Linked DNA regions of Homo sapiens: all the other regions are linked to region 2. Evidence: fine-mapped expression QTL. A gene starts in region 2. Each other region holds a variant in brackets. All regions are shown on one strand. Distances are between the middles of the regions. Region 1 has its middle 28 kb from the start of AGAP4. Region 2 holds the start of NCOA4 (nuclear receptor coactivator 4). Region 3 has its middle 44 kb from the start of MSMB. Region 4 has its middle 25 kb from the start of OR13A1. Region 5 has its middle 35 kb from the start of MSMB.

Region 1 (5,102 bases), 210 kb after region 2:
TTTCTTTCTGAGAAACTGGATTTGTCAGCCTCTTTCTTTGGTATCTCAGGTTCCTTGGCCTTTGCAGATAGGTTTATATAGACCTGCTCAGCACAGGACAGGCAGTTTCTCAAAAAATTAAAAATAGAATTACCAAATGATCCGGCAATATCACTTCTGGGTATATAGCCAAAATAATTGAAAGCAAGGTCTCATAGAAATATGTGTACACTGATATTTATAGCAGTGGTATTCACACTCGTCAAAAGATGGATGCAGCCGAATTGTCCATAGGCAGATGAATTGATAAAATGTGGTATATACATACAATAAAATATTCTTCAGCCTTAAAAAGGAAGGAAATTCTAACACATGCTACAACATGGATGAACATTGAGGACATTATGCTAAGTGAAATAAGCCAGTTAGAAAAAGACAAATACGGTGTTCCTTCACTTATGTGAAGCGTCCAGACTGAGTAAGCAAACTAATAGAAACAGAAGGTAGAACGGGGGTTGCCAGGGACATGGGGAAGGGAGAAAATGGGAAGTTGCTTAGTGGATATAGAGTTTTGGTTTTGTCAGATGAGAAAGTTCCGGAGATTGGTTGCATGGCAATGTGAATATACATTACCCAACCCAAGGGCTCTCCTTGACCCCTGTTCCAACTGCCACTTAGAAGTGGTTAAGGTAGTAAATTTTATGTGTATTTTACCACTATTCAAAATAGAATTATTATTTTTTTATTATAATTTTTTGAGATCCCTCACTCTGCTGCCCAGGCTGGAGTGCAATGGCACCGTCTCGGCTCACTGCAACCTCTGCCTTCTGGGTTCAAGCGATTCTCCTGCCTCAGCCTCCCAAGTAGCTGGAACTTACAGGCACATGCCACCATGCCAAACTAATTTTTCTATGTTTAGTAGAGACGGGGTTTCACCATGTTCGCCAGGCTGGTCTTGAACTCCTGACTTCAGGTGATCCGCCTGCCTTGGCCTCCCAAAGTGCTGGGATTACAGGTGTGAGCCACCATGCCCGGCTGTCAAAATAGGTGTTTTTTGTTTGTTTGTTTGTTTTTGAGATGGAGTTTTGCTTTTGTTGGCCAAGCTGGAGTGCAATGGCGGGATCTCGGCTCACGGCAACCTCCACCTCCCGTGTTCAAGCAATTCTACTGCCTCAGCCTCCCGAGTAGCTGGGATTACAGGCATGCACCACCATGCCCAGCTAATTTTGTATTTTATTTTAGTATAGATGGGGTTTCTCCATGTTGGTCAGGCTGGTCTCCAACTCCTGACCTCAGGTGATCCACCCACCTTGGCCTCCCAAAGTGCTGGGATTACAGGTGTGAGCCATTGTGCCTGGCCTTTTTTTTTTTTTTTTTTTTTTTGTGGGTGTGTGTGTGTGTGTGTGTGTGTGTGTGTGATGGACTTTTGCTCTTGTTATCCAGGCTGGAGTGCAATGGCACGATCTCAGCTCACTGCAGCCTCTCCTCCCGGGTTCAAGCGATTCTCTTTCCTCAGCCTCCTGAGTAGCTGGGATTACAGGCATGCACCACCATGCCTGGCTAATTTTGTATTTTTAGTAGGTATGGGGTTTCTCCATGTTGATCAGGGTGGTTTTGAACTCCTGACCTCAGGTGAGCCATCTGCCTCGGCTTCCCAAAGTGCTAGGATTACATGCGTGAGCCACTGCGCCTGGCCTGAAAAAAAATTTTAAAGTTTGAGAAAATACAAAACTTTCATAGTCTCCAAGTATTTCTCCTAAGATCTTTCCCCCTATGAGGGGGAAAGATAGTAACTTTACAATGGAGAAATCCAGCAGAAACCTGAACCAAATGAACAAGTTCAACATCATCAGTAAGAAGAACTATCAATGCCATAACTCTGAAGGAATGCACTGGGAAGGATTCCACATCATTTTTGTGCTGTAATTGCCAAAAGTGTGTAACTTCAGTCCAATCATGGAAATACATCAGACACACCCAAATCGAGGAACATTTGACAAA[T/C]AGTGATCAGTACTGGTTCAAGATGTCAGGGTTATGAAAGATAAGGAAAGATTGAGGAACTGTTATTGCAGTCCTACAAAACGGCGAGAGACTGAGAAATAACTAAATGCAGCGTGATCCTGGGTGGAATTTGGGAACAGAAAAAGGACATTAGTGGAAAAAGTGGCAAAACTCCAATAAGGTCTTTAGTTTAGCTAATATGTTCATTTTTAAATAGTTAAATAATTTAAATACATTTAAACGTCATTTAAATGTATTTAAATTAACAAAATTGGTTATTTTGTGAAATAATTTTAATATAGTTAAATATGAGAATGTGGATTTCCTGGTTCTGATCACCGTACTGTGGCTATCTAAGATGTGAATGTTCAGGGAGGCTGGGGGAGGAATAAATGGAAATTATACTATTGAATTGGAAAAGAGAAACCTACCCCATCAGTCACGAAACCCTCACATTCATGGCAGTGTGTCGGAGGTTCCAGTATGAATGGCATTTCCCAGATGTCAGCGCAAGGTCCCTGTGGAGGGAGTGGGACTCCCTGGGAATCTAGTGGAGAGCATTCGGGGCTCCCTTCCTCAGGAGCCTGCCCTTCCTGCACAGAAGCGTCGGCCTCACCTGTACCACTGCCCCTCTGCCTCTCAGAACCAACTCGGCTTCAGGAAGGTTCTACTGCCAGCTTCCTTTCCCGGATACAGCCTCCAGGGACTCAGCCCTGCCTTCCCAAGTGTTCCTGCCTCTCTTGGGAAGGGACGCTGTCAGATCCCGCACCCCTGGACTTCCCCGCACACCACCTGTTCCTTTTTTCTTCACTTCTCCAGCTCTGCGTTCTCACTCTGAGGGTCCTCTCTTGCTGGGAGTGTGTGTTGCTGGCAACAGTGAAGATTCCCCCTGGGTGGCCCCCCATGCCCTGTTCTTCTGCACTTCCCTGGCTTCCTGTGTTGGTTCTGCTGGTGTCACCTGCTTTTGGGTTTACGTGGCTTCCCAGCTTCCTAATTTCTCTGAAGTTGAGTTTGATGTGTATGTTGATGATGGGCTTTTTCTTCCTCCTTCTCCTCCTCCTCCTCCTCAGTCTTGTTGTTGCTCTATATAGTTTCCAGAAGGAGAAAAGGGACACTGTAAAATTGAGCTGCTGCAGGCTGGACACAGTGGCTCATGCCTGTAATCCCAGCCCTTTAGGAGGCCCAGGCGGGCGGATTACCTGAGGTCAGGAGTTCGAGACCAGTCTGGCCAACATGTTGAAACCTGATCTCTACCCAAAATAAAAAAATTAGCAATGTGTGGTGGCATGTCCCTGTAATCCCAGCTACTCGGGAAGCTGAGGCAGGAGGATCTCTTCAACCCAGGAGGCAGAGGTTGCAGTGAGCCAAGATCACGCTACTGCACTTCAGCCTGGGTAAAAAGAGTGAAACTCCATCTCAAAATAATAATAATTAAGCTGCTGCTATGTTTCTATCAGACCCAGAAATCCCGCAGAGTGAGCTGGAATTCTCTGTTTCTCTGTTTCCCCTCCATACCCACTGGCTCCTCTCTGCCCACTCCCTCTTGGACTGCATCACCAAGGTTCCTCACTGTCTGGCCCTAGTGGAATTCAGACAGTGGGGGATGTCATAGGAGGTGGGAGAGAGAGGAGAGGTGGTTATTCACTCAGATTCTTCCTTGCTGGTTTGCCAGTGGCCACATCTTTCTAGTGATGGCTGCAGCTCCTGATGATCCTCCCCTACAGCCACAGCTCTCTTCGGGGTCTGTGGACACCTTTCCTGTCCCTCTAGACCCAGGGAGATAACAGCTCCCACTCTTGCTGGTCCAGGGCATTTCTCATCTCTCATTGGTTCCCTTAACTCTGTCCACACTTCTGTGAACAGCCCCTTTTCCTCAAGTACCCATTCGAATATGTCCTCTGGCTTCCACCAGGAGCCTGACTGATACCCACAGGTGGGTGAATGCTGGCGTGCTTCTGGGCCGAAGCATGTTTTGTATGCAGAGGTCAGCAGCTGTGTGTGGGGAGGCCCAGCCAGGCCCCACTCATGGGTCATCATGTGAAAAACAGCCTTGCCTGAGTTTGTGTCCTCTTTCTACATGGCAGCAGATGTGTATTTTGTTTTTGACTCTGCAGCTGGTGATAACCACCTGCTTTAACCTTTCACTAGCCTCTGAGTTTTCTATGATTCCTGTTGGGAGAAAAGCTGAGTGTTGGTAGAGAAGCTGAGGCAGGGCTTGCATGTCTGCTAGACTTGCTGGCTTCTTGATTCCAGCATTCCCATTATCTCAAGTAGCCATATATTTCTCATTCACTTGCTACACTGTTTCCTTTCAACCTCCACATCCTCACCACCTGTTTCTTTGTTAGATCACCAATAAATAGCATGGGCTCCCAGAGCTCAGTGCCTTTGCAGCCTCCACACTGGCAATGGCCCCCTGGTCCCACTTTCTCTCTTGAACTTTTTCTCATTCTTTTGACTCCGCGGGACTTTGTTGCCCCCACGACCTGGTGTTGGCTCTGATCATCCCAACAGATTCCCATTCTAAAGATGAGGGAACCAAGAGGTGGAAGGGAGAGTTAGAATAAGAACCATTTCTTCTGACTCCAAAATCTTTCAGTTCTAGCACACTACCACCCACACTTTAAAAAACTCTGAAGTAGGCAGAGAATTCCCTCTTGTTGGAGGAATTGCTTTGAGAGACATGGTTTTACTGGATGAGGCTTTGGAAATTAACCTGAGGCAGGCGCCAGCACATCCTGAGAGGGATGTAATCTGGCACAGAGGCCTAGCCTGGTCTCCAGGTCTCAGCTGGCAAGACAGTCTGATCATTGACATTCCAGGCTGGGCAGGGCCAAGGGGCTTCAGGGGCCCATGCCCTCATGGGGCTCACTGAGCTTGTCTCCCATCAGCCAGTGTCCCGGCATCTCCAAATGAAGGCAGCTGTGGGGGAAGTTCCTTCTAATGAGCCAGTCTGTCCTGGCTGGGGGTGGCATCCCGGAGCCCCACCTTGGATGTCCAGGGACGTATAGGTCCATTGTGAGGATAAATGGGTCAGCACTGAGCCCTCACCCTGGACTCAGGGGACATGAGCCTGCTCTGAGCCCTCTCCCTGGACTGGGAGGGCATTGGGCTTGCTCTGA
Region 2 (5,106 bases):
AACAAAACAAAACAAAACAAAATACATATGAATAAAAGTTCTATTTTTCCTAAACTCTATAATAGGTCATTGTGCATCCCTTACTCAGGGGACCACTGCCACTCTTACTGTTTCTGATGTCTGCACTCTGCTGCCCGTGTCCTGCTGTCTGGTGAACGATGAAAAAAATGTGTGTCTTCAAGCTGGAATTAGATCCCTTCTTTTCTTTACGGTGTTCCTGTTTATCCCTCCTTCCTCTTCATCAGGAAGTGTCTTCTATGATGTGTCCCCCACATTCCTCTGTGTTTGCTTGAGGTCAAAGCAGCTTAGAACAAGAAACAGCTTAGAACAAGCCTGTAAAACAGCTTAGAACAAGCCTGAAGAAAGTGCCCCCAAGACCACATGCAGCCCGAGGGGAATTAAAGGCCAGGGGCTCTGCCTTGCAGATGGAGAGTGGCCTGGGTGCAAGGCCCCAGCATCAGCTACCTCTTGCTACACACAGACCACCGAAAACTTAGTGGCTTAAGACAACGACAACATTGATTCTCTTTTAACTGTTTCTGTGTTAAAGAACATCTGTTCACTCAACAGGTCTGTACTGAGCACCTGGGCCAGGCAGTGCTCTAGACCTGGGGATACAGCAGTGAACCAGAGAGATTTCAGGAGAGAACCCTGTTCTCCTGGGGCTTGGACTCAGCTGTGTGTACGTGACAGATCAGAAATGAGCAAACAGTCATCTGTTGAACAATCAGTGGGCAACTGATAAAGAGCTTTATTTTCCCCTGTCCCCTATCTGTTTAAACATGCTATGTGGGCCAGTTGAGCAATCTAGACAGGTCCCTTAGCTTTCTTGTTCACCTTCAGATAATTTAAAAAAGTGGTCTGAGTTACATTTTGAGTTACACAAAGTCTCATTCCAGGGGCTGCATCTGAATTGAGAGGGAATGGGGGACAGGAGAGTTAAGGGCTCCTTCTGCCTGAGGTCATGTTCTAGGCTGACTTCCTCATGGGACTTTTGTGGGCTTCTCTCTCCACAGCTCCCCTTCCACTCACAGCCTATGACTGTTATCTTAGCTTCTGCATCGTAATCTATGTCTCCTATTGTTTTCTAATGAGGTTGCCTTGCCCCTTGTAGCAGAGTCACTCTTGGATGAGATCCATAAAACCCTGCTATGATCACCTCCTTTGCTGCGGAATGTGGGGAAGCAGTTGGCAACTGAGTATGGAGGACCTCTGTCAAAACTGAGACAGAAAGAAGTGCTATTTAACATCTAGTCACAAGTAAATAATGTGGGTTATAATCTGGGCTGTAGGCTGGACGTGGTGGCTCATGCTTGTAATCCTAGATCAGGTGGGAGGATCGCTTGTGCCCAGGACTTTGAGACCAGTCTGGGTAACACAGCAAGACCCTGTCTCTACAAAAAAATTTAAAAACCGGGCATCATGGCGCATGTCTGTAATCCCAGCTACTCAGCAGGTTGAGGCAGGAGAATCGCTTGAACACAGGAGGCAGAGGTTACAGCAAGCCGAGATTGCGCCACTGCGCCTGAGCGACAGAGTCAGACCCTGTCTCAAAGAAAAAAGAAAAGAAAAAAAGAATCTGGGTTCTGCCATTTATTTATTTACTCAATTTTTTTTTTTTTTTTTTTTGAGACGGAGTCTTGCTCTGTCGCCCGGGCTGGAGTGCAGTGGAGCGATCTCGGCTCACTGCAACCTCTGCCTCCCAGGTTCAGGCAGTTCTGCCTCAGCCTCCCGAATAGCTGAGGCTATACGCGCGAGCCACCACGCCTGGCTAATTTTTTTGTATTTTTAGTAGAGAAGGAGTTTCACCGTGTTAGCCAGGATGCTCTCCATCTTCCGACCTCGTGATTCGCCCGCCTCGGCCCCCAACGTGCTGGGATTACAGGCGTGAGCCACTGCTCCCGGCCTATTAACTCAATCCTTAGAAAAACAAATGTGGCAAAGGTGGAATCATACAACATATGGCCTTTTGTGTCTTACGATATTCATTTTTGCATCTGAATGTTCAAACTAAATAATATCTACCTTGTGAGGCCATCTGAATCACTTAGGATGGTCCTTGGCACCAAATTTGCCTTCAAAAAAGCATTTGCTTCATTTAATTTCGATTTATTCACGAAGGACTAAAGGACACTGCAAGGGCGGGGAGGGAGTGTGCGCCTGCGCTCTGCGCCTCCTAGAGGGCAGTCAAGGGCTTCTGGCTGACCCGAGCGGAGATCTCGCGAGACTGTCAGACGTATGGCGAGAGGTGTGGGAGGAAGATTGTGTTGTCGCGAGAACTCTGCCTTTGGGCCGTAGGTTAGTGTGGGGCCGTGTCTCAGTCCACCCAAGGTCTCCTCGGATCGCCTGGAGAGGCACTCGGACCTGGTAAGAACGCTGTGGGCCGGGTGGAGGCTCGATGACCGCTGGCCCGCTGGGCCCGGGCTTGTCCGCCCCTTCCCGACCCGACCGACACCGGGACCGGTCTGCCTTCTCCTTCCCTTCCCTCCCCTCCACACGCCAGGCCCGGGCACCTCTTCCTGCCTGCCCGCCGGGCCCGGGCCTGTCTTCTCCCCTTCCGGCCACACGCCGGGCCCGGGCCTACGTTCTCGCCTTCCCGCCACACGCCGGGCCCGGGCTTGTCTTTTCCTCCCCGACCCTCCTCGTGCCCGGCCGTGGGCCTGTCCTTTCCTCCCCGACCCTCCTCACACCCGGCTCGGACACCTCCTGCTCCCCGCCGGCCTTCCCCTCTCTTTAGGTGTGACAGCTCCAAGTTTCCTGTTTCTCTCGCCTCTTGCTTGGATGTGGGGCGAGGCGAGGTCTGTTTTGCCGGACGGGCACAGAACATAATCCATTTCTAGCTTGTCAGGTGGAAATGCAAAGAAGATATTGGGTTTTTTTGGCCCTCTGTGTGCCAAACACATACTGTCACATTTAATTCTCCCAATAATCCCGAAAAGTAGCTTGATTATCTCTGTTTTACAGCTGAGAAGAGTAAGGCTTGCTCATTCATTGGTTCATTCCACCAGCAATCATTTATTTGGTGCCTGTATGTTCAGGATGTTGAGGATAGCAATGAAAAAAATGGACACCTAATTCTCATGGAACTAAATTCTTGTTGTGGGGAAAACAATAATCATAATCTTACGTGGCACGGGATTTAACATGGAATGATGCCATCAAGAATGGCAGAAGTAGAATGACAGAAGTCAGAGTGCTGAATTTATCTGACCCCAAAGGCAGAGCTTTTTTACTTTTAACTGTGCCTTTTTGTGTCACTTTCTAATCAGGGTCGGGTTCACCACAGTAATTGCCTTTTGGATGGACTTAGCTTTCCACCACGCACTTGGTAATTTGGAACTAAGTTTATAGAGACTCTTGAGTTACTTATTGGAATGAGGATGGCACAGGAAGTCATAGTTGGCCCATTTTTATACCGAGATCCTAGTGTGACATTTCCAAACTTTAAAGTACTTGAGACCGTTTGAGAAAGACTTACCCTAAGGATGCAGTGGCTTAGGCAATTTACTTGGTTTTCTCATTTGAAGATTTGCTAGCTTGCAGATTTGTTCAGATAAGTAAATGAGATTATGTATGTAAAGTCCAGCACAATAACGTTCCTTTCATTTTCTCCTTTCCTGCCTTCCAGGGAGCCTTTGTCCTTGGGTCTCTAAGGAAAATCCTACTCTTTGAAAGTTTTGTGGTAGTTTTTATCTAAATAAATCTCTACAATTACATTATTACCTTTGTGCAAACAGGCATTTCGGAAATGGAAAAACATGTTGAGCTATGGAAGGGGAGGAAGATGTCCTTCTCAAAGGGAGAGAAGATATTTTAGAACTACATAGTACCCCTCACCCCCCCCTTTTTTTTTTTTTTATTAAATCAGTATAGCTGTGCCAGAATCTCAGGATCCGGTGTAGGGGTTTCATAAAACTCCATAGGATATCCTGACACATATCCCTCCCCCGGTTGAGAGTCCCTAAGTTAGTGTTTTATAATACTTTCCCTCACATAGTGTTAGCATTCAGAGCCAGTCATTGCTGCTGCTGATGGACTTTGAACTCAGTCTCTTATTTCAAAGAATTAGTATTTTCTGCTTGGTTGGTGAATCTATGACACGAGTTCTCCTCTAGGTGGCAAGCTCACCATTGTGTTCTCAGGGACTATCACAGTAGTGTCAGTTTAGGTACTCAATAAATAGTTGTTGGATGAATACATAATACCTTAATACTTAATGATTCCTTCAACATACCAGGTGTGGTTAGGGACTTTGGACTCAGATCTGGGATTAAATCTTGGCTCTTCTACTTGGGAGTTTGTGACTGTAGGTAATATATTTAACCTTGTCAAGTCTGCTTTTTTTTTTTTTTTAATTAATGGTGATGATAATAGCCACTTTAATGAGGGCTAATTGAGATAGTGAGTTTTTTAAAAAAAGGCTCGGCACATAGTAGACTAGATGTAAATACTTACTGAATTCATTTACTCAGTAATTAATTGTTGAACACCTACTATACAACAGTGAACAAAAAGACAAAGTCCCCGCCATGTGGAACTTACCTTCTAGTATGTTTTCTGAAGGGAGATCAGAAAATAAATGGTTGCTACGTGCCAGACTGTGGTTAGTACTATGGAGAGTAATAAAGCATATTAAGGGGGATTGGAGGCAAGACTTTTAAAAATAAAAGATGGTGAGGAATGGCCTCAATGAGAAGATGACCTCTGAGCAGACACCTGAAGGAAGTGAAGGCCTGGGCTCGAGGATACCTGGAGGAAAGCGCAAGGGCCCTGAGGCAGAAGCATCCTTGTTAAGCTAAAGGAGCAGCAGGAGGAGAAGAGTAAGGGTAGAGGGGAAGAGTAGGTAGCAGTCATGAGGTTTCTGCAAGAGTCCTGGAGAGAGATGATGGTAATGAAATTGATGAACTTTATGTCTTTCTTTGTTATATCCTGTTCTTTGACTAAAAGTAATAAAAATAGGTAATACTTCTATAGCTCTTAATGTGCATCAGGCACTATTTTAAGTGCTTTACATATATTAGTCATCAGATCTTTCCAAGAAAGTATACCTAGCCTCAGAAAATGAAGATTTGTCACTCTTTAGGATATACAGTGGAATGTGCTGCT
Region 3 (5,106 bases), 60 kb before region 2:
GTATGGGATGTTTGGTGTGTCTTTGGTATTTTTGGTGTATGTGTGTTTGCTATTTATGTATGTGTGTGGTGTGTGGGTGTGTGTGCTTCGGGTGTGTGGTGTGTGGTGTGATGTGTGTGGTATAGGGTGGGTTGAGTGTGTTTGTGGTCCAGTGTGCATGGGTGGGTGGGTGTGGATGTGTGGCCCACATGAGTGTGAATGTGAGTGTCTATTGGTGTGGGGGGAGTATGCAGAGGTGGCAGTGTGAGTACTTGTGTACAATTAGTGTGTTGTTACCTCACAACAATAAGTTTAACCCTAAAGCAAGAAAAGACATGTGTGAGAAGCTCACAGGAAAACACTAGCAAATGGCATGGAGCAGCAGCTAACCCAGACCACAGGGCAGGAGCAGCCAGGGCTCCTCCCAGGAAGGCCAGGCAGGTGCAGAAGGTGAAATAGCTGTGAAATTTACCACATCAACAAAACGGGAAACAGGAACCAAGCGGTTATCTCAGAGGATGAAGAACAAGAAGTGGGGGCGTCAACATGCCACAGCACCCTGGGAGCAGAAGGAAACCTCCATAGCCCGACAAAGGTGTCCACACAAACACCCTCGGCTCACCTCAGTCCCACAAGATCAATCCCAGCATCTGTCCCTACTGTCTGGAATTAAGGGTGACCTCATGCCATCTGGGTACCCAGCATGGGTGGTGACAGCCTTGTGTGGTCCTCTGTGATGACCCCTGTCTGTCCTGATCTCCACCTGTGCGCACTGGGACTCCGCATGGCCGGCATTTATGCAAATGCGGCTGCTGGAGAGGAAGAGAGCCCTGGGTGTCCTCCCTCCATGGGGACAGCACGAGACTGGGTGCTGCTGGCCCAGAGCAGCAGCTGGGTTCTGGCCTCCCAGTTCCTCACTGCAGGGTGCCCTGGCAGTAGGCTGTGAGGACAGACACACCGTCCATGTCAGCTCTGCTCTCCATGGGCACACGACCAGGAGCAAATTGTCCAATGTCAGCGAGCTCCAGAGGTGCCTCCCATGAACAGAAAGGATGCTGTCAGGCCTGTCGTGAGTCCCAGGGCACTGAGCTGTGCAGGGACTGGCACAGGGCTGGGAGCTGGTAGGTCCCAGAAACAGGAGCTGTGCTGACACTTCCATGATTGGTCCTGGGCTCTGACCCCACTCACCTCTCCCCGATGCAGAGCTGAGGATGGGGGTGGAGTAGAGAGAGCTCCCCTCCCACTTGGGGTCTCTTTCTGCTGCTCCTGGTTTAAAGCTGCTCAGTCGTGCAGCCAGTGTGCTAGCTGTGCTCCTCTGACGATGTCCCCTGGACATGCACAGGCTGTGGCGTCTGAGCAGTCCTGTCAACCCCAGGTGAGGATGTGAGTCGTCACTCTTCCCTGGTGGCAGCTGAGTTGAGGTGACAGGTGCCCTCTGCCCACCAGCTCAGCCCTCTGCCTCTGCTCACGTGGCCCGGCAGTCACAGCCCTGACCTGTCAGCTGTTGGCTGACTTGGGCAAAGCTGCCCCACATGGAGGGTGACAGTCACAGCAGGGAAAGGCCAAGGCAGGAACCTGGAACCTAAATGCAACAGAATAAGCCCTCTCAGCAGGCTGCCACCAAGAAACCAGGAGGGCTCCAGGGAGCCCAGGAAGGAGGCCAGGGAGGGAGGCACGCAGCCCAGACTCCCCCATTCAGTCCTAGGCCTCATATGCAGCCTGGCAGAGGCCTCTGCTGGGCTCACTGCTCCAGGCCAGTCCTGAGCCCATCCCCCACACATGGCTGGAGGGTTTTGGCAGGAGCCTCCCTTCTAAGCCTGGCAGGTGTCTGAGGCTCTTAGCAGAACCCCCAGGCCCTCCAGGAGCCACTTCCTGTTCTGGGCGCCCTGTGCAGAGGTGGGACCAGGTGGGGCGTAGGCACCCTGCAAGCCCTGCCTCACCTTGAAGGGCCGAGCCCACCTGTCCTTCACAGCCCTGTTCATAGGGCACCTCATCCTGGAAGCCTTCCCTGATGACCAGCCCCTCTGACTCCCTGCAGCCCAAGGGCTTGGTCTGTCCCTCTCATCAGTCACTTGTCACCCAGGATGTATCATGACTTCTGATTGTCTATGTCTAAGCATAATTTTCTTCTTTAGTTATTTGGTTTTCTTCCATCCTTTATTGTTGAAATTTTCAAACCTATAGGTGAGTGGAAAGGATTGTGCAATGAACACAAACACACCTATATCCACCACTGGGATTTTACAGTGAATGTTTGCCCATGCTCCTTTATCTCTCTCTCTCTCTCTCTTTTCATCCATCCACCTTGCAAAAAAGGGAAAAAAAAATGTTTGCAATACGTAGTCCTAACACAGCCTAGAATGTAATTTGCAACCACCCCGATTATGAAGCTTTGGGGCAGCCCTCAGTCCTGCTCAGGGTGGCCGAGTTGGGCTGACCAAGGGGTGCAGGCCACAGGCCCAGTTGCTCCCTCCCGGGCACACTGAGCCCAGTGTCCGGCTGGCCAGGGCCCTTTGGACACCTGAGCGAGGAAGATGTTGAGAGTGTTGCCTGATAGCATCAGACTTGGAAGCAGCTGCTGTTGGCCTTAGTGGTGGGAGAGCACCCGATGCTTGCCCTGAGTGGGGCCAGGTCTGGTTGCTCAGCACAGGATACCAAGCTGGCCTTTCCTGCTACCGCTTTTTTTTTTTGAAACAGAGTCTCATTCTGTC[A/G]CCCTGTCTAAAGTCCAGTGGCATGATCTCGGCTCACTGCATCCTCTGCCTCCCAGGTTCAAGCAATTCTCCCACCTCAGCCTCCCAGGTAGCTGAAATTATAGGTGCCTGCCACCATGCCCACCCAGCTAATTTTTTTGTATTTTCAGTAGAGACGAGGTTTCACTAAGTTGACAAAGCTGGTCTCGAACTCCTAACCTCTGGTGATCTGTCCACTTCAGCCTCCTAAAATGCTGGGATTACAAGCATGAGCCACCAAGCCTGGCCATTCTTTTGTACTCTTATGGAATTATATGCTTGCTTTATAAAAATGAACTTATTCTACATATATGTTATTACATTATTAAGACATGTTCCCAAATGACATATTACATTTTCATCATTCTTTTTTAAAATATTTTTTCGTGAGACAGTGTCTCGCTATGTTGCCCGGGCTGGAGTGCAGTGGCTTAATCACACATATATATAATAGAGGCAGGACTTGAATCCAGATCGTCTAGCTCTGGAGTGCTGGGTCTTAACCACTAAACTACAGTGAGTTCTTAAGCTGTTTAACTGAGTTATTGCATGTAACAAAGTGGTAGTAGCTGTTCTTACCTGGAAAGGTTTTTTTTTTTTTTTTTTTGAGATGGAGTCTCGCTTTGTTGCCCAGGCTGGAGTGCAGTGGCGCGATCTCTGCTCACCGCAAGCTCCGCCTCCCGGGTTCATGCCATTCTCCTCCCTCAGCCTCCCGAGTAGCTGGGACTACAGGCGCCCACCACCACGCCCGGCTAATTTTTGTATTTTTTAGTAGAGATGGGGTTTCATCGTGTTAGCCAGGATGGTCTTGATCTCCTGACCTCGTGATTGGCCTTCCTTGGCCTCCCAAAGTGCTGGGATTACAGGTGTGAGCCACCACGCCCGGCCTCTGGAAAGGTTTTTAATGATTTTTACAAATATTAAAAATTACATTAATATGTCAGATTAAAAAAATATATATAGGCCAGCTGCAGTGGCTCACGCCTGTAATCACAGCACTTTGGGAGGCGGAGGCAGGCGGATCACGAGGTCAAGAGATTGAGACCATCCTGGCCAACATGATGAAAACCTGTCTCTACTAAAAATATAAAAATTAGCTGGGCACAGTGGTGCGTGCCTGTAGTCCCAGCTACTCAGGAGGCTGAGGCAGGAGAATCATTTGAACCCGGGAGGCGTGGAGGTTGCAGTGAGCCAACATTGCACCACTGCACTCCAGCCTGGGCGACAGAGCAAGACTCTGTCTCAAAAAAAAAAAAAAAAACCAACAACAAAAACTGTTTGGGTTTTTTTGAGACAGTATCTTGCTCTTTCAGGGTTCAAGCGATTCTCTTGCCTCAACCTTCTGAGTAGCTGGGATTACAGGCATCTGCCACCACATTTGGCTAATTGTTATATTTTTAGTAGAGACGGGGTTTCACCATGTTGACCACGCTGGTCTCAAACTCGACCTCAAGTGATCCACCTGCCTCAGCCTCCCAAAGTGCTGGGAATACAGGCATGAGCCACAGTGCCCAGCCTATATATTAGATTTTTAAGCGGAAAGGTGTTTGTTAAGAATCTTAGATCACTTGAGCCCAGGAAATTGAGGTTGCATGCCACTGCACGCCAGCCTGGGTGACACAGAGACACTCTGTCTCAAAAAATAAAAGAAAAATCCAAACAGTTGTGTTCTAAGTAGGATATGTAGTAATCATGACCTTTAGCATTGTACTGCAGCAGTCTATCATCTAATAAGTGATTGTGTGATCTAAATTCACAACATGGGGTGATAATGCTACAAAGTTGGTTTGTTTAAAATTAAAGTTTAATTAACTAAATAAATCATTATTTTAATAAAACCAACATGCCATATGTAAAAATAAAATCCACACACAGACATCATCTCATTTATAGGGAGAACATACCTCTCTGTGCAATAGTTTTCTCATCTGAAAAAAAGAGGTATAATAGAGCCTATTTCAGAGTTATGTGCAATTAAGGAAATAATATATACAGAGCATTTAGAAATGCTTGGCACATGGAAAGCACTCAAGAAGTGTACGTGTCCTCAGTATAATAAAGACCATGTAGGAAAAATCCACAGAGAATTTTATTCTCAATGGAGAAAAATGGGAAGCTTCTCCCCTAAGATCAGGAACAAGACAAGGGTGCCCACTTTCACCATTTCTATTCAATATAGTATTAGAAGTTTTAACCAGACTAATTAGGCAAGAAAAATAAATAAAAGGCATTCAGACTATAAAGGAAGAAGTAAATTATCTCTGTTTGCAGGTGACATGATCTTACATGTAGAAAACCCTAAATTATACAAAATACCTGTCAGAGCTAATAATTGAATTAAGCAGTTATAGGATGCAAAATCAACACACAAAAATCAGTTGAGTTTCTATACACTCAT
Region 4 (5,106 bases), 740 kb after region 2:
CTTTGGCTGCCCACCAGGACCGTTATGTGGGTCTGCATGTCAGAGAACAAACCACATCCTCCTGCTTCCCTCTGTGCTCAGGTAGCTGCCTGAGCCGGTCCAGACCTGAGGGTCCTGAGTTCCTTGGGCAGCAACTGTGCTCACTCTTAACCTATTGTCTTTCAGTTCCAAACCCATCTCTGCAACTCTGAGCCTGGGATGCTGCAAACCTTATTTTTCCTTTGCAGCTGGATTTCTGTTAGTCTCTGCCCAGAGTGGGCCCTAGAGGGATCCTGGAAGGCTGGGAGAGAGCAGGGACCTGCTCTGTCCCATTTGCTTCCAGCTTCTGTCAGCATCATCCTGAGGATGATTCCTTAGCTTTGCAGCAGTGATTTGGTCCAAGGACAGCAGCTGCTCTCAGCTTTTACACTTGCAGGAGCAGCCTCATTTGGCCCCTCAGAGATGCTGGCACATAGTCACCAGTGTTGCCTACTCTGGGGTTTCAATCCCTGTCGAGGGTGGCTCTCCTCCGAGCTGCTGAGGAAGCAGCATGCACTGAGTAGCATGCATCCTCAGGCTGAAGCCCTGTGGGATCTCTTTATGCCACAGGAAGACCAAGGCCACCCAGGAAAGCCACTCTCCTCAGGGTCTCTGGTCCAGCTCAGTGCAGTCCCTTCACTGGCTTTCTCACTGACCATGGCCTCAAACTCTCTTTGCTCCTCCAGTCCCAGGATATAAAGCTGCTTTCTGTGGTTGCTGTTTTTGCAGCACGGCAGTTTCTCTTGTGCTCTGCAGTCCTCCCAAATGTCTCTGGCCAGTTCCCTATATTAGGTCCTCTCTGTTAAATTGGTAGTGTGGTTTCTGTTTTCTCACCCAGATGCCAACTGATGCAGGCCTCCCTTCTGGGGCCTGTAGGCTCCATGCTCCTGTGCTGCTCCCTGTGGTCTCTGGTGTGAGTTCTTCAGGCTCTGACAGATCCAGGTCCTGCTCCAGCTATTTCTGCTTTGAACACAACAATGGGCTGAATCTGTGCCCATAAAGGGCTGAGCTCATTCAGTCCCAGGAGTGAGGAGAGCTCATCCTGAGTTTGTTAACACTTCTCATGCCCTTGGATGGTATCTCCTATAAAAGTTAAAAGTTCTTTTAGACTTCCTCTTCCAGATTTCCTGGAACCTCTTCAAAGAAGTCAACATGCTTCTCATCATGGGGCTGGGCTAGAGAGGAATCTCTTTGAATGCTCTAGATTGCTTTCTCTCCTGACCTGATTCTTGGTTTCAGAATGGTGTTTGTAACCCTATTCTCTCATCCCAAGATGAATGTCCTTGCTTTCCTGAGGCACCTACTGTCAGAGGCATGTGAACCAGAGCAACTCCATCTTAAATAGGAGCTGGGAAAAATGAGGCTGAAACCTACTGGGCTGCATTCCCAGATGGTTAAGGCATTCTAAGTCACAGGTTGAGAAAGGAGGTCAGCATAAAATATAGGTCATAAAGACCTTGCTGATAAAACAGGTAGTAGTAAAGGAGCCAGCTGAAACCCATGGAAACCAAAATGGTGATGAGAATGGCCTCTGGTCTTCCTCACTGCTATACTCCCAGCAGCACCATGACAGTTTACAAATGTGATGGAAACATCAGGAAGTTACCCTATATGGTCTAAAAATGGGAGGCATGAATAATCTACCCATTGTTTAGCATATAAACAAGAAATAACCATAAAAATGGACAACCAGCAGCCCTCAGGGCTGCTCTGTCTATGGAGTAGCCTTTCTCTTATTCCTTTACTTTCCTAATAAACTTGCTTTCACTTTACTCTGTGGACTTGCCCTGAATTCTTTCTTGTGCAAGATCCAAGAACCCTTTCTTGGGGTCTGGATTGGAACCCCTTTCCTGTAACACTACCACTGGGGATGCAGGGGGTGCAGATTTTATCTCTCCTTTAGACATAAATGTGATTATTTTGGTGTCTGGAAGCCTAACCATTGCTTTACATTCTCCTTCATACTCCCATCCAGACATCCTCCCTATGACATTCACTCATTTCCAACCCTTCCTGTATATCATGGAGTTGCTATGGTGGGTGTGCAGAGCAGCGCCCTTGGCTGGACCTTGGGGTCCAGTCACCATGACAGTTGCCTTGGTCAGTCATGTGGTCAAAGGATGAGAACTATAGTTTTCATATTGCTCAAGGTTAACTTTACCTTTTAGAGAACTCAAGATTACAATACAGTATGCATAAACCAAGTGAGAGCAAGAGGCTACTAATTGGATCAATATATGTCATAAAGCCTAGATTTACTCCTGAAAATATTCTTTTCCTGCTGGTTGGGTTGTTTGGTGAAGATCAATCACATAATAATCTCAGTTCTAACTATGTCATTGTAGACTTTCATTATTTCCTTCCTCTTATAATAAATCCTTATTCTGCCCTCATCAAGCCCTGTAATACTTTCTGAGGATACAGCAGTGAGCAAGATTGGTAAACATTGCCTGAGCTCTTAGTTTTGAAGACAATTTAGTAAACAACAACAATAAAATCCCCATAACAAGGGAAATGCCCCTGCTTGTGGGGGTTAAAGTAGGCCTCCTGTGACAAGTGTCATTTAGGCTGTGCTCCTAAGGATAAGTGGAAGACAGACAGGATAACTTAGTGTTGAAGTGGGGAGGGAGAGAGTATTATAGGCTCCTGGCAAGAGTGTCTGGCAAGAGTGAGTGTGGCTCATACACCCAGTTGAAAGAAATCAAGAGCGGTCAATCTGGACTAAAATGGTGGAAAAACGACCATCACCAACAGTTTTATCCAATGGGTATTGGGAGGGATATATTCTACCTATTTTCTTCACTTACTCAATTGAAAAACCTCATATCCCTAAAAACAATTAAAAATGCTTATACCTACAATTTCTCAGCAACAAAAGGGGCCTCATTAATTAATCATATTAATTTCTCTTGATGTCAATAGAGCCCAGTCTCTTACTGATGATCTCTTGGGGCTTTTACATGGTGGAGACTCTTGGACCTCTCAAATGTAGATGAACAAATAATACTCTCAGAACTGATGACATCTCTCTCCCTTCGTGTGTGTGTGTGTGTGTGTGTGTGTGTGT[A/GTA]AATCAGTCTACTATGCAAATTAAGTCTGTAATTTCTTTTTCCCATGAGGATACATTATATCCTAACACAACCCAAGAAGTGAAATAAAATCAGGCCAATTTGTAATTGCATCTTTTTCTTACATTTGAACATGCGGCCTCTCATGAGAAAAGCATACCATTTGAGTTGATTTTTACCGATATGTAAATAGATTTTGGTTTATCTAAGTGACTTAAGTTCCCACTCAACTCAATTTCCCACTGATGCAATTCAAACATATGCACCACAAACTGGCCAGACATAGAGACACACAAAGCAGAAATCCATGTGAAGACAGAGGAAGAGATTGGAGCGATGCCTTCATAAGCCATGAAACAACAAGGATTGCCAGAAACCACCACTAGCCAGAAGAGGCAAGAGAGGACAGTTCCCTAGAGCCTTCAGAGAGAGCATGGCCCTGCTCACGCCTGGATTTTACACTTCTAATATCCAGAACTATGGCAGAATAAATTTCTATTGTTTTAAGTCACCAGTGTTATAATTTTTAATGACAGTTCTAGGAAACTAATGTAGGTGGCTTCTAGTGGAAGAGAAGTCTCAAATTATGACTTATCTGGTGTCACATCCACAAGCAATCAGCCACTCAGGGGTCTCTTTTACCTAAGCATTGCTACCTAGTAACACAAGGCTTTCCATAGTTATCAGATTTCCAGAGGAATCAAGCTAGAAAGTAAATAGAAGGTCAGTACCTCTTGCAGAAAGGCAGGGTTTTGTTAAACCTTTACCCACAAACAGAGGAAAAAATTGCTAAGTTAAATCCAAATGCTTGTATCCTCTTTTGCATTTAGTGGAGTTAAAGCCCCACAATTATCATGGTTTTCAGTAATTTTTTTTTGTGATAATGCTGTGTGCTTACCCCCTGTACTTGGAGGTGAGTAAAGCTTATCCTCAAGCTGTACTCAGCAGTTTGCAAAGACAAACATATCTTTTTCTCATTCACAAGTTGGTGGATTGGCTGGGCTCCACTAGGTTCCACTGGGATTGGATTGGTGAGGCTCTCATTGAAGGTTGGCTTCACGTATGTTCCATGTGTCTTTTCATGCTGGGATCTGTGGCTACCTGTGGCATGTTCTTTTCATGGCTGATGGATGTAGTGGGAGAGACAAACCAAACCAAGCAAACCTATTTAAACCTGTACTTGTATCATGGCTGTGTAATTGTTACAGGGAAGGAGCAAAGAATTGGGAGCAATAGTCTAATCTGCCACAATAACCCTTGTAAACCAAAAAGTATCTGAGATAGGACTCAATCAATTTAGAGGTTTATTTGGCCAAGATTAAAGACCTTGACCCATGCACAGCCTCAGGAAGTCCTAAAAACATGTGCCTAAAGTAGTTGGGTTACAGCTTGGTTTTATACATTTTAGGGAGAGAGAAGTTACAGGCAAAGACATAAATCAATATACATAAGGTATATGTTGGTTTGGCCCAGAAAGGTGAGACATCTTGAAGCAAAGAGGGTGGAGATTCATGGTCATAAGTGGATTCAAAGATTCTCTGACAGGCAGTTGGTTGAAAGAGTTAAGCTCTGCTTTAAGAATTGAATTCAGCATAAAAAAATGCTTGAGTTTGTTAGAAGCATTTGAACCAGAGCAACTCCATCTTGAGTAGCAGCTGGGTAAAATAAGGCTAAAACCTATAGGCTGCATTCCCAGATAATTAGGCATTCTAAGACACAGGATAAGATAGGAGGCTAGCACAAAGATACAGCTCATAATGAGCTTGCTAATAAAACTTGCAGTAAAGAAGCTGGCTAAATCCCACCAAAACCAAGATGGCGATGATAGTGACCTCTGGTTGTCCTCACTGCTACACTCCCACTAGTGCCATGACAGTTTACATCCCTACATTGTAAACTGTCATGGCACTAGTGGGAGTGTAGCAGTGAGCTGGGCACATGCCTTTAATCCCAGCTACTCGGGACGCTAAGGCAGGAGTGTTCCTGGACCAAACTGAGGGTTGGGCTGCTATTTCCTGCTGCC
Region 5 (5,106 bases), 51 kb before region 2:
TAGATTTTATTTATTTATTTATTTTGAGACGGAGTTTCGCTCTTGTCACCCAGGCTGGAGTGCAATGGCGTGATCTCGGCTCACTGTATCCTCTGCCTCCCAGTTTCAAGCGATTCTTGTGCCTCAGTCTCCCAAATAGCTGGGATTATAGGTGCCCACCACCATGCCCATCTAATTTTTGTATTTTTTTTTTTAGTGTAGACAGGGTCTCACCATCTTGGCCAAGCTGGTCTCGAACTCCTGATCTCAGGTGATCCACCAGCCTTGGCATCCCAAAGTGCTGGATTATAGGAGTAAGCCACTGCACCTGGCCAGATTTTATTTTTTAATTAGGCATTTAAAAATTTAAAAACCACTTCCATAGTATTGGAAGTTCCGGCCAAGGCAATCAGGCAAGAGAAAGAAATAAAGGGTATTCAAATAGGAAGAGAGGAAGTCAAATTGTCTCTGTTTGCAGATGACATGATCCTATATTTAGAAAACCCCATCGTCTCAGCCCAAAAACTCCTTAAGCTGATAAGCAACTTCAGCAAAGTCTCAGGATACAAAATCAATGTGCAAAAATCATAAGCATTCCTATATACCAACAATAAACAAGCAGACAGCCAAATCATGAATGAACTCCCATTCACAATTGCTACAAAGAGAATGAAATGTCTAGAAATATAGCTAACAAGGGACGTGAAGGACCTCTTCAAGGAGAACTACAAACCAATGCTCAAGGAAATAAAAGAGGACACAAACAAATGGAAAAACCTTCCATCCTCATGGATAGGAAGAATCAGTATTGTGAAAATGGCCATACTGCCCAAAGTAATTAATAGATTCAATGCTATTCCCATCAAACTACCATCGACATTCTTCACAGAATTAGAAAAAACTACTTTAAAATTCATATGGAACCAAAAAAGAGCCCACATTGCCAAGACAATCCTATGCAAAAAGAACAAAGCTGGAGGCATCACACTATCTGACTTCAAACTATATTACAAGCCTACACTAACCAAAACAGCATGGTACTGGTACCAAAACGGACATATAGACCGATGGAACAGAATAGAGACCTTGGAAATAACACCATACATCTACAACCATCTGATCTTCAACAAACCTGACAAAAATGAGCAATGGGAAAGAATTCCCTACTTAATAAATGGTGCTGGGAAAACTGGCTAGCCATATGCAGAAAACTGAAACTGGACCCCTTCCTTATACCTTATACAAAAATTAACTCAAGATGGATTAAAGACTTAAATGTAAAACCCAAAAACATAAAAACCCTAGAAGAAAACCTAGGCAATACCATTCAAGACAGGCATAGGCAAAGATTTTATGATAAAATTGCCAAAGGCAATTGCAACAAAAGCCAAAATTGACAAATGGGATCTAATTAAACTGAAGAGTTTCTGCACAGCAAAAGAAATTATTATCAGAGAGAACAGGCAACCTACAGAATGGGAGAAAATTTTTGCAATCTACCCATCTGACAGAAGTCTAATATCCAGAACTTACAAGGAACTTAAACAAATTTACAAGAAAAATAAACCTATCAAAAAGTGGGCAAAGGATATGAACAGACACTTCTCCAGAGAAGACATTTTTGCAGCCAATAAGCACATGAAGAAAAGCTCAACATTCCTGATCATTAGGGAAATGCAAATCAAAACCACAGTGAGATACCATCTCATGCCAGTCAGAATGGCAATTATTAAAAAAGAAACAACAGATACTGGCAAGGCTGTGGAGAAATAGGAATGCTTTTACATTGTTGGTGGGAATGTAAATTAGTTCAACCATTGTGAAAGACAGTGTGGCGATTCCTCAAGGATCTGGAACCAGAAATACCTTTCACCCAGCAATCCCATTACTGGGTATATACCCAAAGGAATATAAATCATTCTATTATAAAGGTTCATGCACATGCATGTTTATTGCAGCACTATTCACAATAGCAAAGACATGGAACCAACCCAAATGCCATCAATGATAGACTGGATAAAGAAAATGTGGTACATATACACCATGGAATATTATGCAGCCACAAAAATAAATGAGATCATGTCCTTTGCAGGGACATGGATATAGCTGGAAGCCATCATCCCCAGCAAACTAACACAGGAACAGAAAACCAAACACTGCATATTCTCATTCATAAGTGAGAGCTGAACAATGAGAACACATGGACACAAGGAGAGGAACGACACACACAGGGGCCTGTCGAAGCAGGGGCGAGGAGAGGGAGAGCATCAGGGAAAATGGCTAACGCATGCGAGGCTTAAAACTTAGGTGACAGGTTGATAGATGCACCAAGCCACCATGGCACACGTATACCTCTGTAATGAACCTGCACGTTCTGCACATGTATCTCAGAACTTAAAATAAAAAAATAAAAAACAAATTTGTTATGTTTAAATTTTAGAAATTTGGGAGGGAAAATGCATCTCTGCTAAGAATCTGGAATGCTTTCCTCTTTCTGATGAGAACTGCGTAACTTGGTGGTTTTATGTGGGTTTGTTTTTGTTGCTGTTGCTGTTTGTTTTGTTTTTACTGCTCTGGAAACTAGGAACCTCATGCCCACATTCTGATGCAGTTACAACAGCCCTTTTGCTCCCA[T/C]GAATTCTTGGGTTTTCTTTCCTTATCTTGATTTGCCACTTCTATTTGATTAGCTTCATTGTATAACCTTTGTTTAAAATATTTTTGGGAAATTAATATAGGAATATATAAAATTAATATATGAAATTAATCATATATGTCTCTTAGCTTTGCCTAATTTGTAGTTGAAGGTGCTGGCCTAACATCTGAAGGATGGCACTAAGAGGATCAGGGTTGGGTGTAGACAACTGCCCAGCCTACACCAGTTCCAGGATAGCCTGTCCTACAGCAGGAAATCAGCAGGGTTGTCTTTCTTTATAAAGGAAACATTCCATTATTAATGTGAACTTCAACATAAGCCAATGATTAAGGAAAGAACCAATATGTACCTGCTGCAATTTAGATCTAAAATATAAACATCCAATGTGTAGGAATAATTTCCTCCTCCTTTCATCGAATCCTGTTTGCCTAATGTATTTCATGGGTAACTTGCCACTCAGATATCCCAGGAAGCCCAAAGGCTAACACTGTGGGCTGACAAGTTGGGATGATACCAGCAGTGGTTACATTCTCACCATCCAGTCGTGTTATAGCTACAGGATCATGAAAGTTTGCTCATGGGAAATGCAAGTTCAAATTATTGTTTCTACTGAGCTGGAATTTATTTTAGAAGTGCCTAGGGTCAGTTCATTCCTTGAATTCCAAGCACTGTTTGTCAATTCCTGGTTCCAAAATTTCTTAAAGTCTGAGATCTGAAAAGGCAACATTTTTGTTCTCTTCTAAGAGGTATATGCCTGTTTGTGTTTTAAACAGGTTTGTCTGTAACTGAAAGTTAACTGACCCCAGTGGCAAAAAGGAGAAGCTGTTAGCTTGCACAAAAACTGTCAACCACAGCTGCAGATAAAACAGGGAGGGCTGAAGGGATATGGGACCGATGCCATTAGTATCTAATGCAATATTTAGTAAAAGATGTTGCCTAAGAGGATGATGCTATGGGGAGCTTGGAAGAACCTAGGTAGAAGACTGTGGAAGACATGGAGTTGCCCGACTCACCCCTTCCTCCATCTTCCCCACCAAGGAGGATGTGAAGCCTAGCTGCAGGGCTTGCAGTCAATGGGTGGCCTCTAGCTTTTGGCTCTTTGGGGGTCCTTGGTCTGTGGGGTGATCTTGGGTCACCCAAGGTTGCTGCCGTCTTGGGGCAGCCTCATCCAGTGACTGGGTGAAGCAGGATACACAGGCCCCAATATTCCAGTCTGAACAGGACACTCTTTTTTTTTGAGACAGAGTCTCGCTCTGCCCCCCAGGCTGGAGTGCAGTGGCGCGATCTTGGCTCACTGCAAGCTCCGCCTCCCGGGTTCACGCCATTCTCCCGCCTCAGCCTCCAGAGCAGCTGGGACTACAGGCGCCCGCCACCACACCTGGCTAATTTTTTGTATTTTTAGTAGAGATGGTGTTTCACCGTGTCAGCCGGGATGGTCTCGATCTCCTGACCTCGTGATCTGCCCGCCTTGGCCTCCCAAAGTGCTGAGATTACAGGCCTGAGCCACCGTGCCCGGCCTGAAGTGGACACTCTTGATGAACACCGTTGCTCCAGGGTGCCCTCCAGGTAGACTGAGGCTGTGCTGGGCCCACAACACAGTTCAGTTTTTTCCTCTGCCCCATCAGTTTTTCCTCCTTCCCTTCCTAGGTGTGGATCTCTAATAAGTATCATGCGCCTCAAACTCCATCTCACTGGTTGCTTTTGGAGAACTCATCCCTTGACAAGTCCACCAGCTAAGGCTCCCTGTCTTTATAGAGAGCACAAGGAGGGGCACCTTTTCCCCATAAAGACCTGCCTGCTGATGGGCTCTTGTTTTCTCTAGGACCCGGCACTTGGCCAAATCATATTCAAAGTTAGCAGGGAACTCCGGTCTTTTAATTATTTCAATCATAGATGATCTTCCTCTGTAGTCATGGGCCAGGCCCCTCAGGGTGTTATCTGCACAAACGTTGAAAAGTTATGCTTCCGGCGGGGTGCAGTGGCTCACGCCTGTAATCCTAGCACTTTGGGAAGCCGAGGCGGGCGGATCACAAGATCAGGAGATTGAGACCATCCTGGCTAACACGGTGAAACCCTGTCTGTACTAAAAATACAAAAAAAAAAAAAAAAAAAAATTAGCCAGGCATGGTGGCACGCGCCTGTAGTCCCAGCTACTTGGAAGGCTGAGGGATGAGAATCGCTTGAACCCGGGAGGTGGAGGTTGCAGTGAGCCGAGATCGCGCCACTGCACTCCAGCCTGGACGACAGAGTGAGACTCTGTCTCAAAAAAAAAAAAAAAAAAGTTATTCTTCCTAGAAATACTCCCAGAAGACTTTGTCTCCAGGAAATTCAGTGCTCTCCAGGAGAGAGCATCCCTGGCACCTCTGTTAGAACTGGACTGTTCTCTGGCTATTAGTGGAAACAGCTTCAACTCCAGAATGTTCCTGGTATTTGCTGGAGGATAAGGCATGGAACACAGATACAGTTATGCTTGC

The links.
Region 1: its variant is fine-mapped to the expression of NCOA4 in whole blood (INTERVAL, PIP above 0.99).
Region 3: its variant is fine-mapped to the expression of NCOA4 in whole blood (INTERVAL, PIP above 0.99).
Region 4: its variant is fine-mapped to the expression of NCOA4 in whole blood (INTERVAL, PIP above 0.99).
Region 5: its variant is fine-mapped to the expression of NCOA4 in whole blood (TOPMed, PIP above 0.99).

Annotation. Positions count from the first base shown.
Region 1 is chr10:45,817,410-45,822,511 of GRCh38, reverse strand. No RefSeq gene overlaps it. Among named protein-coding and RNA genes, the nearest start is that of AGAP4, 28 kb to the left of the region's middle. The variant T/C (reference allele first, on the strand shown) is at 1,981.
Region 2 is chr10:46,027,787-46,032,892 of GRCh38, reverse strand. It overlaps NCOA4 (nuclear receptor coactivator 4), which reads left to right and starts at 2,270. Exons shown (of 10, transcript NM_001145263.2): 1 at 2,270-2,367. It overlaps LOC105378287 (a long non-coding RNA gene), which reads right to left and starts at 2,118. Exons shown (of 3, transcript XR_945923.4): 1 at 2,026-2,118; 2 at 109-304. RefSeq lists an enhancer at 2,225-2,294 and a silencer at 2,655-2,744.
Region 3 is chr10:46,088,004-46,093,109 of GRCh38, reverse strand. No RefSeq gene overlaps it. Among named protein-coding and RNA genes, the nearest start is that of MSMB, 44 kb to the right of the region's middle. RefSeq lists a silencer at 1,277-1,571. The variant A/G (reference allele first, on the strand shown) is at 2,691.
Region 4 is chr10:45,288,158-45,293,263 of GRCh38, reverse strand. No RefSeq gene overlaps it. Among named protein-coding and RNA genes, the nearest start is that of OR13A1, 25 kb to the left of the region's middle. The variant A/GTA (reference allele first, on the strand shown) is at 3,086.
Region 5 is chr10:46,078,506-46,083,611 of GRCh38, reverse strand. No RefSeq gene overlaps it. Among named protein-coding and RNA genes, the nearest start is that of MSMB, 35 kb to the right of the region's middle. The variant T/C (reference allele first, on the strand shown) is at 2,614.